Homo sapiens: one gene and its partner. The protein of the gene in region 2 purifies or fractionates together with the protein of the main gene of each other region. This does not show direct contact. Each region holds a gene or a part of one and is shown on either strand. Other genes may lie near its edges.

Region 1 (7,087 bases), on a different chromosome or scaffold from region 2:
CAGGCCGTGGTCTGGGTGAGGCCACACCTCCGAGTCTATGCCAGCCAGTATGTCCCTTCGGGGTTACTGCTTGCTGCCAAGGCTGTCACTAACCCAGTCAGAGGTGACCAGGGCAAAGACAGCGTGTGAGCCTTCAGGTTCTGACTCTTCCACAGCTAAGGCTGAGAGCGTGCCCACTCTGCCCAGAGAGGCCCCGGCGTCTGAGAGCAGAGCCCAATTTGCTGGCACAACCTCGGCCACCAAGGCAGGAAGGGCCCTAACTAACAACGCACAAATGAATTCTCCTCTTCCGCACCCCCCTGCTTCCTTCACCAAAGAACCAGGCATCCCGGCCTCTGCTCTTCCCAGCTTTCAAACTCCTCTTGGGAAGGGCCTGTGTCTGTCTCCCCTGGAATAACACTGCCTCACTCACGACCTGCTTAAGGAATGAGGCCGTCAGAAATGGGGCTTAAAAGAAGTTTTAAACAGGCTGCCATGGAACACAGTTGCCAGATTTTCCGAATCAAAATACAGAACATCCAAGTTAAATGGAATTTCAGATAAAGAGTAATCTTTGAAGGGAAGTGTGTCCCATGGAGTACTGGGAACATACCCTAAAAATCACTCCCTGTGCATGGAACTCATATTTAATTGTGCCCCCTAAATTGGGCCTGGCAGGATGAAGACGTGGTGGCTTCCTTACCTCGAGGAGCCAGCCCTTCTTCTCACACTCTGGCCACTCCTCTGGCACGTCCTGTCGGCACAGCCCTCCAAACACATTCCTCCACACGGTGGGCAATGTAAAACCCCACCATCGCCCACACCTCCTGCCTCCGCTGGGATCCACTGCCCACCTCCCCGTCCCCTCCCCGCGGCCTGCCACCTCTGGCCACAGGGGACTTCCTGCCCTTCCTCAAAAGGAAGTCAGTCTGTGACCCAGGGCGACTGTGCTGCTGCCCCTTCCAGCCGCATGCCTCTCCCTCCGAACAGTCCACTGGTGTCAGCAAGGTCCCTGCCCTGAGTGTCACTGCCCCTGGGCAGCTGACCTGGCCCACGCCACTTCCTCCCACACCACTGCCTCCTTACCCTGCTTTATGAAGTTTTCTTGGCCCTTCTCAGTGCCCTAAATGAAATATTCATGACTTAGTTGGCATCTCCGTGGCAACCTGGCCTTGTGCCCTTGTGCCCTAGGATGTTCCAGCTCCTCACAAATACTGGCACAGAGGGGACATTCCTTGAACAGTGAATGCCACTGGACAGCCTCGAAGTCAGCGAGGATGCTGGGAGGCCATCCCAGAGGGGATCCGATGGGACCTTGGTCTAGGGGCCCTTGAAGGGTCTTCACCAACCTCAGCTTCTACGACTGTAAAAGCAACTCAAACAGAACTGTACTGTGCATGCCTGGAGGTCCCCAAACCTCCCGTTAAAATGACCAACACATGGGAGGACAGCTCTTGTGGCTGCCCCAAAGAGAAGGAGACATCCTCAATATGAAAACCACGTGCCCCACTCTGCTCCCACATGGCGTGCAACATGCCCCACACCACCCAGAGCAGGGAGGGACCCTGGCTGACTCTGGAGAGGCTGCTCTGAGGCCCAAGTCAACAAGAGGCTATGGCTGTGCAGAAGGAACAGCGCGGCGGTGACCACTGCCCAGCCTGGACAATTCCCAGGGCTCCACACATCTCTCGGTCACTGCGACCACCAGTATTATCAGATCCAACCGTTGCACGTGCAGGCGTGACTTTCTGGGTGCCTGAGTGATGGAGACAGAGACAGGCCCAAGAGTCTGTGAGTGCAGATACACAAAAGGCAACAGCAGGCTGGGCCGCCGAACTGGGCCAGGATGGACTGAGAATCCTCAGGTGGGACAAGGATCCCAATTATTCACATTTCCTGGTCCCTTCTGTCCCCACCCCATGAGAGAGGCGCCCCCGCCAGAAATATGTGTTCCCCTCCTTTTGCAGCTGGGAAAACAACCGAATGTCCTGGCGCTGCTTTCTAGAACATGTTCAGGTCTCCCAGAGCCCAGTGGCCTGAGATTCACTGGGCAGCAGGTGGCCGCCTCTCCCCAGAGCCCTTCAGTCTGGAAGTCCAAGCACAACCCTGGCGTCCAGCTCCCCTGCCACCAGGATCCAGGTTACCAGAGGCCGTCCGGGGATCTCCGGCAGCGTAGGAGGGCGGGCCCGGGCTGCAGCAGTCACGAAAACTCCGCCGGCGGCGCCCGAGGAGTTGCTAGGGGAATCTGCTCCGCCTCTAACCCGGCACACGCAGGCCCACCTGCTTCCAGCATGCCGGGACAGTTCACTGAGAGAACCGCCCCCACCGCGGAGGCACCGAGGGTCCGGCTCGCTTATGCCCACGCAGCCGGCTAGACCTTCTGTGGGGGCTCTGCTTTCTCCGCGTTACACCACCCCGACCCCACAAGGCCACGAGGAAAGTAAATGAGGCCTCAGCCCGTCCCCAGACCCCCTCCCCTAAGTGTCCACCTTTGCGCCTAGGACCCCGCGTGGGCCAAGCCGGCCTTCTCCGCTTGGACCCCGCCGGGCCTACCTGCCTTGCGCAGCAGACCGATTTGCGAGCCGTTGAGGGCCATGTAGTCGCAGTCGGTGACGACCCGCACTCGCACCCCACGCTGGTGCAGCAACTGCACGGCGCGGCCCAGCTGCGGGCTGGAGAAGGCGAACAGGCAGAGATCCAGGCTGGCGCGGGCGGCCAGCAGGGCACGCAGCAGGCGGCTTAGCGCGCTCTCGCCGTGGGGCAGGCCGCACGGGCAGCCCTCGGGGAGCTCGGCCAGCTCCGCGCCCGGAGCCCGCAGCAGGGCCTCGGTACAGGTCACCTGAGACGGGAAGAACAGCGCCTCGCGCCGCGGCCGCCGCCGCCTGGACCGCAGCCAGCGCAGCACCCAAGGCAGCGCCTCCAGAGTCAGAGCCAGGCCCACAGCCGCCGCGGCCGCCACCTGCCAACTCAACCGTCCCATGCCGCCGCTAATCCGGGACCCACAGCCACGCCGCCGCAGCGGAGTCTGCGCGCCCCCAGCCCTAGACCGCCAGGCCACGCCCCCGTCACGCGCCGCCAGCGGCCATGTGCCAGGCCACGCCCAGCCCCCCATGGCCACGCGCCAGGCCACGCCCTATCACGTCCTGCCAATTGCCACGCACCAGGCCACGCCCCCGTCACGCAGCGCCAACGGCCACGTGCCAGGCCACGTGCCAGGCCACGCCCAGCACCCATGGCCACACGCCAGGCCACGCCCCCGTCACGCCCCACCAACGGCCACGTGCAAGGTCACGCCCTCAGCCCCCGAGGGCCACGCGCTAGGCCGCGCCATGCCCCCACAACTGTCACGCACCAAGCTGAACCCACGCCTCCCATCAGCCCGCCCCCAACCCTCAACAGGTGACCACGCCTCCCTCCACGCGCCAGGCCACGCCCCCTGCCACAGACACCCTCCACCCCCCAACGCCAGGCTGTGCCCCCCATTTTCCTTCCAGCCAGGCGCTCGGCCACGCCCTCCAGGTTCCACCTCCCACCACGTGCCAAGCCACGTCCCCAAGCCCGCGCCACCAGGCAGCACCTGCACACCCGCGGGCCACGGGCCCTAGCACACCCGTCACCTGCCCAGGCCAGAGACCGCTCTCCGCGCTAGAAGCCACAGCAACCCCGGCTTTCCTCGCATGGAGCACAGCAGAGCTGCTCTGGAAATGTGGGGTCACACCTTCACTGTCTTCTCGGGAGCAGCTAGGCTGGGCTGGGGAATGACCTGGGAACACAGATAATCAGGGAATCAACACAGCTGGAGGCAGCATTGGAACCCAGCATACTGGAGGCGGTGTCGGCCCAGAGGTTTTTTCCTAGCCCAAGAGGTTTTTTCCAGCCGGCGTTGTTGGAAGGCCTGCCCTGCTTTAAGCATAAACAGAGGAAGAGACTAAGGCAGCCGAGGGCACTGGGCCGGGGGCATAGGGAAACGGGGCAATGTGGTGGTCTGGGCTGGATCCTGGAACCGAAAGAAGACATTCACGGAAAAACTGGTGAGAGCCAAATAAAGTCTGGAGCTTAATCGCATTGTACCAATGTCAGTTTCTTAGCTTTGACAAATGTATGAAAGGAATGTAAAAGGTTAACAAAGGAAGCTGCGTGGGGGTAAATGGATCTCTCTGTTCTATATTCGAAACTTTTCTGTAAAGCAAATTATTCTAAATTAAAAGTTTATTAAAATATTAAACTTGCACCTTCCATATGATCCAGCTATCCCACTCCTAGGAGAAAGGGCGGGATCCATTAACACAAGCACGTGTCCTGGCAGGCGTATGTGCCTAGAACAACCCAAAAAGGCGTCAGCAGGTAAACAGGTAAATAAGCTTTTGTATATCTGTACAAGGGAATGCTATTTAGCAATAAAATAGAATGAAGTGGCCTGGCACGGTGGTTCATGCCTGTTATCCCAGAACTTTGGGAGGCTGAGGCAGGAGGACAGCTTGAGTTCGGGAATTCGAAACCAGCTTGGCCAACATGGTGAAACACTGTCTCTACCAAAAAATACAAAAATTAGCTGAGTGCGCTGACGTGCCTGTGATCCCAGCTACTCGGGAGGCTGAGGTGGGAGAATCGCTTGAGCTCTGGAGACTAAGGTTGCAGTGAGCCAAGATCATGCCATTGCACTCCAGCCTGGGTGACACAGCAAGACCCTATCCCCCCCCCACCAAAAAAAAAAAAAAACAGTACTCACATGTGCTACGACGTGGATGAATTTCATTAATATTGAGTGGGAAAAGCCAGACAAAAAGAGTACATACTGTATGATTCCATTTACATAAAATTCTAGAAAATGCAAACTAGATTGAGGGAAAGCAGACCAGTGTAGCCTGGAGGCCAACAAAGCCACAAGGAAGTGGAGTGATGGATGTGTGCTTATCGGGTTGACTGTGGTGGTTTCACAGGTATATACATATGTCAAATTGTATGGTGTAAATAACTAAAAATGTATGTCAGTGATTATGTCAATAAAATTCTTTTTTTTTTTTTTAAGACGGAGCCTCGTTCTTTCGCCCAGGCTGGTGTGCAGTGGTGCGATCTCGGCTCACTGCAACCTCTGCCTCCGGGGTTCAAGTGAGTCTCTGCGTCAGCCTCCCGAGCAGCTGGGATTACAGGCGCCCACCACCACACCCGGCTAATTTTTGTATTTTTAGTAGAGATGGGGTTTCACCATCTTGGCCGTGCTGGTCTCGAACTCCTGACCTCGTGATCCACCTGCCTCGGCCTCCCAAAGTGCTGGGATTACAGGCGTGAGCCACCGCACCCGGCCTTCTTTTTTTTTTTTTTGAGATGAAGTCTCGCTCTGTCGCCCAGTCTGGAGTGCAGTGGCACGATCTCGGCTCACTGCAACCTTCACCTCCTGGGTTCAAGCAATTCTCCTGCCTCAGCCTCCCAAGTAGCTGGGACTACAAATGCACACCACCACATCGGCTAAATTTTTGTTTTTGTATTTTTAGTAGAGACGGGGTTTCATCGTGTTAGCTAGGATGGTCTCGATCGCCTGACCTCGTGATCAGCCTGCCTCGGCCTCCCAAAGTGCTGGAATTACAGGTGTGAGCCACCGTGCCTGGCGAATAAAATTCTTAACAAAGAAAAAGAACACTTGAGTTTAGTGCTGGCTCCCAGGCTTCCTAGCTGCATGGTCTAGGGCAAATTGATTCATCTCTTCTGAGCTTCACTTTCCTCATCTAAAACGATAATGAGAGGAGGGACTTGGAGTTGTGGAGGTATAAAGAAGGACTCAAATCCCTCCAGAGAGGGATAAACAAAAATAAAACTGGGGGAAAACAGTTTTCAAAAACAGCCACTTCAGGGCTGGAAATCTACCAAAGGCAGACAACAAAATGAGAAGCTTTATTTGATTTTTATTTATTTTTTGTCTTCCAGTTTCTATTTTTAACTTTGTCGGTATATAGTAGGTATATATATTTATCGGGTACATGAGATATTTTGGTACAGACATGCAATTTGTAATAATCACATCAGGGTAAACAGGATATCCATCACCTTAAGCATTTATCCTCTTTTGTGTTACAACATTTAGTTATTAGTTTATTTATTTATTTATTTATTTGAGACGGAGTCTTGCTCTGTTGCCCAGGCTGGAGTGCAGTGGTGCGATCTCAGCTCACTTTGCAAGCTCTGCCTCCCAGGTTCACGCCATTCTCCTGCCTCAGCCTCCCAAGTAGCTGGGACTACAGGTGCCCGCCACCACGCCCAGCTAATTTTTCGTATTTTTAGTAGAGATGGGGTTTCACTATGTTAGCCAGGATGGTCTCGATCTCCTGACCTCACTATCTGCCCTCCTCGGCCTCCCAAAGTGCTGGGATTACAGGCGTGAGCCACCGTGCCCGGCCTAGTTTTTTATTCATTTATTTTTCAGATGGAGTCTTGCTCTGTCAGCAGTGACGTGATCTTGGCTCACGGCAACCTCCGTCTCCCAGATTCAAGCAATTCTCCTGCCTCAGCCTCCAGAGTAGCTGGGATTACAGGCACCCACCACCACGCCCGGCTAATTTTTGTATGTTTAGTGGAGACGGGGTTTCACCATGTTGGCCAGGCTGGTCTCGAACACCTCACATCAGGTGATCCGCCCACCTTGGCCTCCCAAAGTGCTGGGATTACAGGTGTGAGCCACCGTGCCTGGCCGTTTGTGTTTATTTTTTATTTTTTGAGACAGAGTCTCGCTTTGCTGCCCAGACAGGAGTGCCATGGGGCCATCTCAGCTCACTGCAACCTCCACCTCCCTGGTTCAAGCGATTCTCCTGCCTCAGCCTCCTGAGCAGCTGGGATTACAGGTGCCTGACACCACGCCTAGCTAATTTTTGTACTTTTAGTAGAGATGGGAGTTCACCATGTTGGCCAGGCTGGTCTCGAACACCTGACCTCAGGTGATCCGCCCACCTTGGCCTCCCAAAGTGCTGGGATTACAGGTGTGAGCCACAGTGCCTGGCTATAATAACCATTTTAATATGTGTGTGTATGTCATTAACATCATGTCGTATACCTTAAATATATACAATTTATTTTTTAAAAGCTTATACAAACTATATTATCAGATAAGGGGTTAATT
Region 2 (7,725 bases):
TCACTCCTGTAATCCCAGCACTTTGGGAGGCTAAGGCAGGTGGATGCCTTGAGCCCAGGAGCTGGAGACCAGCCTGGGCAACATGGTGAAACCCCATCTCTGCTAAAAAGACAAAAATTAGCCGGGTGTGGTGGTGCATGTCTGTAGTCTCAGCTACTTGGGAGGCTGAGGCAGGAGGATCGCTTGAGCCCGGGAGGTGGAGGTTGCAGTGAGTAGAGATCATGCCATTGCCCCAAGCCTGGGCAACAGAGCAAGACTCTGTCTTAAAAAAGAAATAAATTCCTCTTGTGGTTTAACTATAAAGTGTAACCCCCTTTTTGGACTTCATTTCCTCTTTTTTGCCCATCCCACCTTCACTGGAGCTAGAAGAAGATGGACCCATAAAGTAGGTCTGTATTTTTATAGCAACACTGGACACATTCTTCCTTGGATTTGAACTACCATTTTACTTTTTTTAAAGTAAAAATAGCTATAGCAATCAAGGCACTCAATACCTAGGAATAATTTTAATAAGAAGTATGTAAATTCTACATAATGAAAACTAAAATTCTACTGATGGGGTACCAATGACTTGAATGTATAGGAAGATAGGAAGATTCTTATCATACATTCTCCTTTAGATAATCTAAAAATATGTGATTCCAGCCAAAATAACAGTAACAGAATAGAAGAGTAAATTATGGTTCAATATAGCCTCACAATATTATACCACACAGTAGTCAGAATGAAGGGACTAAAACTATACACAATATGGCTGAATCTCACAGAAATAATTTGAACAAAGGAAGCCAGACACAAAAGAGTACATACTCTGTGATTCTCTTTATATAAAAAGCAAGAACAGGCAAAATTAGTTTATGGTATCAGGAGTCAGAAGAGTGGTTGTCCTTGAGAAGAGCAGTGACTGAGAGGGAACACACAAGTGGCTTCTGGGGCACTAGCAATGTTCTGTTTCTTGATCTGCTGCTGGTTACACAAATGTATTCCATTTGTGAAAATTCATCAAGATATATACTTGTCATTTGTGCATTTTTCTGCATGTATATTATAAATTAATTTTTTAAATTGTGGTAAAAAAAAAAACCATAATGTATACAATTTAAAAAATTTTTAGGCCGGGCGCAGTGGCTCATGCCTGTAATCCCAGCACTTTGGGAGGCCGAGGCGGGCGGATCACCAGGTCAGGAGACCGAGACCATCCTGGCTAACACGGTGAAACCCCGTCTCTACTAAAAATACAAAAAATTAGCCAGGTGTGGTGGTGGGCACCTGTAGTCCCAGCTATTCGGGAGGCTGAGGCAGGAGAATCGCTTGAACCAGGGAGTTGGAGGTTCCAGTGAGCCGAGATCGTGCCACTGCACTCCAGCCTGGGTGACAGAGTGAGACTCCGTCTAAAAAAAAAAAAAAAAAAATTAATGATCAATGGAACAAAATGAAAAAAATCCAGAAATAGACCCAAATACATATGGCAATTTGGTATTATAAAGGTAGCATTCAAAAACAATGGAGAAAACATGGGTTATTCAATAAGAAGGATTTGAATAAAACAAAACAAAATTGGATCTCTATCTCACACCTTTACACCAAAATAAATTCCAGATGAATCAAATATTTACATATACAAAGACACTATCAAAGTACTTTTTAAAAAAACATAGGAGCTTTAAGAATAATCTTAAATAGTGGGAGACTTTACTAAAAATTATATGAAACACAGAAGTTGGCCAGGCACAGTGGCTCACGCCTGTAATACCAATACTTTGGGAGGCTAAGGCGGGTGGATCACTTGAGGCCAGGAGTTTGAGACCAGTCTGGCCAACATGGCAAAACTACTCCGAGTCTACTAAAAAATACAAAAATTACCCAGGTATGGTGGTACATGCCTGTAATCCCAACTACTCAGGAGGCTGAGGCACGAGAATCTCTTCAACCTGGGAAGCAGAGGTTACAGTGGGCCAAGATCATGCCACTGCACTCCAGCCTGGGCGACAGAATGAGACTCTGCCTCAAAAAAAGAAAGAAAGAAACCCAGAAATTATCAAAGAAAATATTGATAAATTCAATTACATAAAAATTTTTAACATTTGCAAAGAATAACCATAAACAGGCTGAGGGCAATGGCTCAGGCCTGTAATCCTAGCACTTTGGGAGGCTGAGGCAGGCTGATCACCTGAGGTCAGGAGTTGGAGACCAGCCTCAAAATATGCAATATACATAGAACAAACTTGGAAAAGGGAAAATACTTGTTATATGTATAAACAATATACATAGAACAAACTGGGAAAAGGGACATACTTTTTTTTTTTTTTTTTGGAGATGGGGTCTCGCTCTGTTGCCCAGGCTGGAGTGCAGTGGCAATCTCGGCTCACTGCAACCACCGCTTCCCCAGTTCAAGTGATTCTCCTGCCTCAGTCTCCCAAGTAGCTGGGATTACAAGCGCTTGCCACCATAACCGGCTAATTTTTGTATTTTTAATAAAGACGGGGTTTCAGCATGTTGGCCAGGCTGGTCTTGAACTCCTGACCTCAGGTGATTAGCCTGCCTCAGCCTCCCAAAGTGCTGGGATTACAGGCGTGACCCACCACACCTGGCCGGGGAAAATACTTTTAACTTATATACAAACAGCAAGTATTAAGAAATGACCCTATAACCAATAAAAATATGAACAGAATATAAAAACAGAGAATTTACAAAAAAATTGCCATTTAAATATATTAAAAGATGCTCAACTTTACTTATAAGAGCAATGAAATTTTATCTTGCAATGAGATAGCATTTACACTATCAGATTGTCAAAAATCAGGAAGTTTAACAGCACCAGTGTGCTATCAAACAGGTTCTTTTCATACATTGCTGACAGGAGACAAAATTGGTAAAATTTCCAGGGAAGGCAATTTGGTAATACTAACTAAAATCATTTTCAAAAATTGCTGGTGGGATTAAAATTATAAAAATCTTTGTGGGAGGAAGGGAATTTACAAAATTTTATCTATCCAAATGAAAAAACAATGCACACATTTCTTTAACTTGGCACTTGCATTTCTAAGTATTTATCATACACATATGCAAGAGGGAAATGAAGTATCCTTGCATATCAATCAAATGTTAAAGGACTGGTTAAATATATCTTCATATATCCCTCAGGCATACTATGAAACTATCACTATGAGGCAGATACGTATATGCTGCTACGGAAACATTTCCAGACTGTATCAAAGAAAGTTGCAAAATAGTATGTATGTTATCAACTGGGTTAAAAAAATATATGTGTGTGTATATATATATACACTTTATATATTACACATATACACACGTTAACTATAGAATATCTTGTGAAATTTTTCACAAGAAACTGGTAACCCTAGTTGCCTTGAAGGAAGGAAAATTTATTCACTATAATAACCTTGTTTCTTCTGAATTTTGTAGAATGTAAATGTATTACTTATTCAAAACGCATACACATTTTTATATTAATAGAAAGCAAAACCTGAGGCCCAAAGGCATCTGCCTAATTGACAAAAGATACAACCTTGCGTTCTTTCAGCAAATATTTATTGCTCATCACCTGCCAGGTATTGTGATGGAAGCTAGTGCGGAAGATCCCCCAATGACCAGGATCGCCCGACCCCTGTTCCCAGGGTGAGCCCCTAGCGCGGAGCGGGGACAGGGTGGACCGAGTAGGGCGCAGTGCTGGTCTCGCGAGGCTCCCTGCCCCACGGAGGCAGTAGCAGGACCCAACCGTTCCTAACCGTCCAGGGACCAGGACAGCGTCTGGAATAAAATCTTCCAAAGCAAACTTCCGCCTGCGGAGACCCGCTCCCTTCCTCGCCCCCACAGAAACGCCCCCCGCCACCACCCCCTCCCCCGGCGTAGGCCTTCACGCTGTCGCCTCGACCCGTTTCCTCGAATCCCCAGGGAAGGGTGGGCCCCTGGCGCCCCTATGGCCCGCCGCCCCCTTACCACCGCGGTCGGAGCCCGGGTCTCACTCTCCTGCCGCTGTTTCGGGCCACACCGTGTGTCCGTGCCTCCGCAAAGGAATAGAAGAGTGGGTCCTCGCTCTCTGCGGCGCACCGCTTGTCCCTTGACTTCCTGTCCATCTACAAAGCCTATTTCATGTTTTCCAGAAAGAAAACGTTTTCCGTGTCTCTTGAGTCCTCATCGCCATATGCGGGGCGGGACCGATCTATGCAAAAGATCGCAAGAGAAAACTGATGGAGCATCGCCCATCATGAGGCTGCTCTCCCGATGGTCACTGAGTTGTGTTGTGGCACTGTCTTTGTACAAAGACACCAATTTTTGCGAACGGTGCCACTCATGATTCAACGCTCTCATGCCTCGGTCCCAGCTGCTGGAGCGCAGATTTTCCTCCAAGGGTTAGAAGATAGAAAACTCCTCGGTAATTGGCCTAGAGGTGGTCTGCGAGGACGCCGGGAAGCTTGTAATTGGCTGTTTAATTCTCAGCAGGTGCGGTCTCAGTTAACAACATCTGCTTTTCCTGGATCTTATTGGCTGACAGGGTGGGCCTGCTTTGGATTCCATCCGGGTAATTGGGCAGCGGCTAGCAGCAGCCACGTCGCTCAGGGGCAGCCCGCGGAAGGATTGGTTGTGACGGGAGAAGGCGATTGGTCGGACTGCGAGCAGGGTGTTGATTGGTGCTGTCGGGCTGCGGGGGCGGGGAAGTGGCGGCTGAAGCGCCGCCGGCGGGGCTCACTGTGGTGGTGTGAGTGGGAGGCGGCGGCGCTGGTGGCTGCAGCTGGGGTGAGGCGCGAGGCGGCGCACTCGACGGCTGACTGGAGCAGCGGTAAAGGCGAGGATGGAGACCGAAGGTTTGGGGAGTGGGAAAGACAGGGTCATGGGCAGCCCTGGCCACTAGGAGACGGAAATGCGGGAGCGAGGGAAGGGAGGGGTCTGGCGTGCCCCGGGGCGAGGGAAGGATGTGGGGCGCAGCGGGGGAGTCAGAGCCCTGGGCTGTGAGACGCCGCTCGGGGGCAACTTGACCCACTGGGAACTCGTAACTGTATCTGAGGAAGATGCTCCAGTCACCCGCTTACGCCACAACGGACCCGGTGCGGGAGCGTTTGTGTTTGCCCTGAGTCAGTTCAGACTCTTCCACTGGGCCTTTTTGAGACTGAGAGCTGCCATCCGTATATCACTTTGCCTTTAACTTTCCCCAGCTTTTTCTTTAGTTATCGCTAATAGGATGGCTGTTTACAGTCGTCAGAATAATACATTGGGGTTTTTGTTTTTCCAGTATCCCTCATTCCTTAATCCAGGTATCATCGTGGGGGTTGGCTGGAGACCCCTATTTCAAAGACTGACTTTTAGACCCTTTCCTTGTTTTGAGAGAAAGGGGTTGACACTTTTTTTTTTCTCGTGAATTTAAAATAAACGTACCAAGGATGAGAACATTGAGCTGCTTCGATTCAAGCATGTCACCATGTTGTAGGTTCTTTGTAGGTTCTGGTTATTAGGAGATACTGGAATGAGTTATCTATGCTTTCATGGAGCTAACAATGTGATTTGACTTCTCATCACATCCTATTTGACTCCTGTCATTTTAAATGATAAAGTAAGCCTTAGCGATGCATATCAGATAGTTTTTGGCAATTGTTCAATACAAATGTCAGGAAATTTCAAAGTTAGCTTTCACTGAAAACCATTATCTAACCACATTCCTCACTGAACAATGATCCTCATCTTCTCTTCTTAGCTTCCCCTAGAAACTGTGGTCTTAAGTTCTAGTATTTTCCTCCTTCCCATTCAATTTTTAAGTAATAAAATCAAACACAAGCTAGCAGTCAGTACTATGCAGTTATCCCCGTTTACATTATATTATTTTCCATTTCTCTTTAAGAGAAACTTATAGCTGAAAGGATATGAAAATTGTGAACAAAACCATAGTGACAGATCAAGTAGAGTCTCATTTTTTGAGACATCAGCTGATAACTCAATTAGCACAAATTCATTTGTAATGTTTGAAGAGGAGTTAGTGAAATTTACCTTTTGCTTCAAATAGAAGTCGGCCAAAACCGCACCTATAATCTCAGCTACGCCGGACGACTGCGGGAGTTCAAGGCTGCAGTGAGCTATTATCATTCACTGCATTCCATCCTGGGTGACAGACCAAGGCTCTGTCTCTAAATAAACAACAACAAACTCTCCAATTCATCTGTTCTCCATCTCCATCATTGACACCTGGACTAGGCCCTGATTGGTCTCCTGCAGCCACGGTTGCTGCCTTCAATTCATTCTCCTCACCACGGACACAGATGTTAATCAAGAATGACAAGCATGGCATGTGTTATCAAGGGATATTGGGGATTCTGTGGAAACCCATAGCAATGTAATTCAACCCAGTGTAGGGGGTCGAGATTGAGGGGCCTTGGCTGCAGAGACCCCTCTGCACTTGATCTTGATAGTGTCAGAACTGGAAAACAAAAGTGCTGCTAGTCCTTTGGGCCTCTGTAAAGAGGTGTGATTATGACTGGCCATCAAAACAGACTTATTTCTATTGCACACTGTATTGTGTAGAAATGACTAATGAGCTGTGTGATCTTAGATCAATCCTTTTCTATCCCTTAGCCGCAGTTTCCCAAATTGCAACGTTATTAATGGAATCAAATAAGTTCTGTAGTCCCTTCTAGTTATAAAATCTTGTGATTTCTATGCCCCATAAGCATCAATTATGGCCAGTTTTTAAAAGCAGACAGCATGAAAATACAGATCCAGTTTATTCTTGTTCACAGGGCTAGATTTCAGTTTCCCAAAGCCCTTAAGACCTAAAGACTCCTGCCTGTCAAGATCTTCCTTGCCAGACAGGAAACTCCATGAAGGCAGCTGCCAAATCTATCTTGACTGTTGTGTCCCGAGGGTCAAGCACACATCAGAATTCGATATTTATTGGCTTGAATAAATGTCCATTTAGTGCAGTTCATTCATGTAGTATAGGTTTGCGGAAGAAAAGTGAGTTGTATTTTAATGAGATGATTTTCAACTATACACCATCTAAGAAATAAACCTTAAGGTTCTAGCTACTTTCAACTGTCGCATTGACCAAGAATTTATACAGTTGTCCCTCCCTTCGTTATTTGCAGGGGATTGGTTCCAGGAACCCTGCAGAACCCAAATCCATAGATGCTCATGTCCCTTGTATAAGATGCATATTATTTGTATATAACCTACACACATCTTGCCCTATACTTTTTTTTTTTAAACCCCTTGAGACAAATTCTCGCTCTGTTGCCCAGGGTGGAGTGCAGTGGTGTCATCAGTTTACTGCAGCTTCCACCTCCTGGGCTCAAGCCATCTCCCACCTCGGCCTCCTGAGTAGCTGGAACTACAGGTGTGCAACACCACGCCTAGCTAATTTTTTTTTTTTTTTTTTTTTTTTTTTTTTTGTAGAAACAGAGTCTCACTATGTTGCCCAGGCTAGTCTTGAATACTTGGTCTCAAGCAGTCCTCCTACCTTAGCCTCTCAAAGTGCTGGGATTAACAGGCATGAGCCACTGTGCCCAGCCTGTTTTGGTGTTTATGTTTCCTAGACTATGAATATTTCCAAGTAGAAATTCTTCTTCCTCCTTCTGTCCCCAACGTGCTCAGCACACAAGAAAGAGCTAGCACTATTTAACCAAGATGCATTAATAATGGAAACAAGCTTTGCACTTTAGTGGTCATATAAGAAAATACCTAAGCCAGGCGCAGTGGCTCACGCCTGTAATCCCAGCA

What was found. Proteins that work in one complex are often made in the same cells at the same time.
Region 1: the proteins of TDRKH (region 2) and PLD6 purify together in Homo sapiens (affinity purification with mass spectrometry; 2 studies listed by BioGRID and IntAct, with this or other methods). This does not show direct contact.

Annotation. Positions count from the first base shown.
Region 1 is NC_000017.11:17,203,328-17,210,414, forward strand, and holds the start of PLD6 (mitochondrial cardiolipin hydrolase), read right to left. Parts: upstream 3,007-7,087; 5' UTR 2,960-3,006; coding exon 2,533-2,959; intron 1-2,532. UniProt on the Homo sapiens protein: Presents phospholipase and nuclease activities, depending on the different physiological conditions. Interaction with Mitoguardin (MIGA1 or MIGA2) affects the dimer conformation, facilitating the lipase activity over the nuclease activity.
Region 2 is NC_000001.11:151,787,481-151,795,205, reverse strand, and holds the start of TDRKH (tudor and KH domain-containing protein), read left to right. Parts: upstream 1-4,705; 5' UTR 4,706-4,826; intron 4,827-7,725. UniProt on the Homo sapiens protein: Participates in the primary piRNA biogenesis pathway and is required during spermatogenesis to repress transposable elements and prevent their mobilization, which is essential for the germline integrity.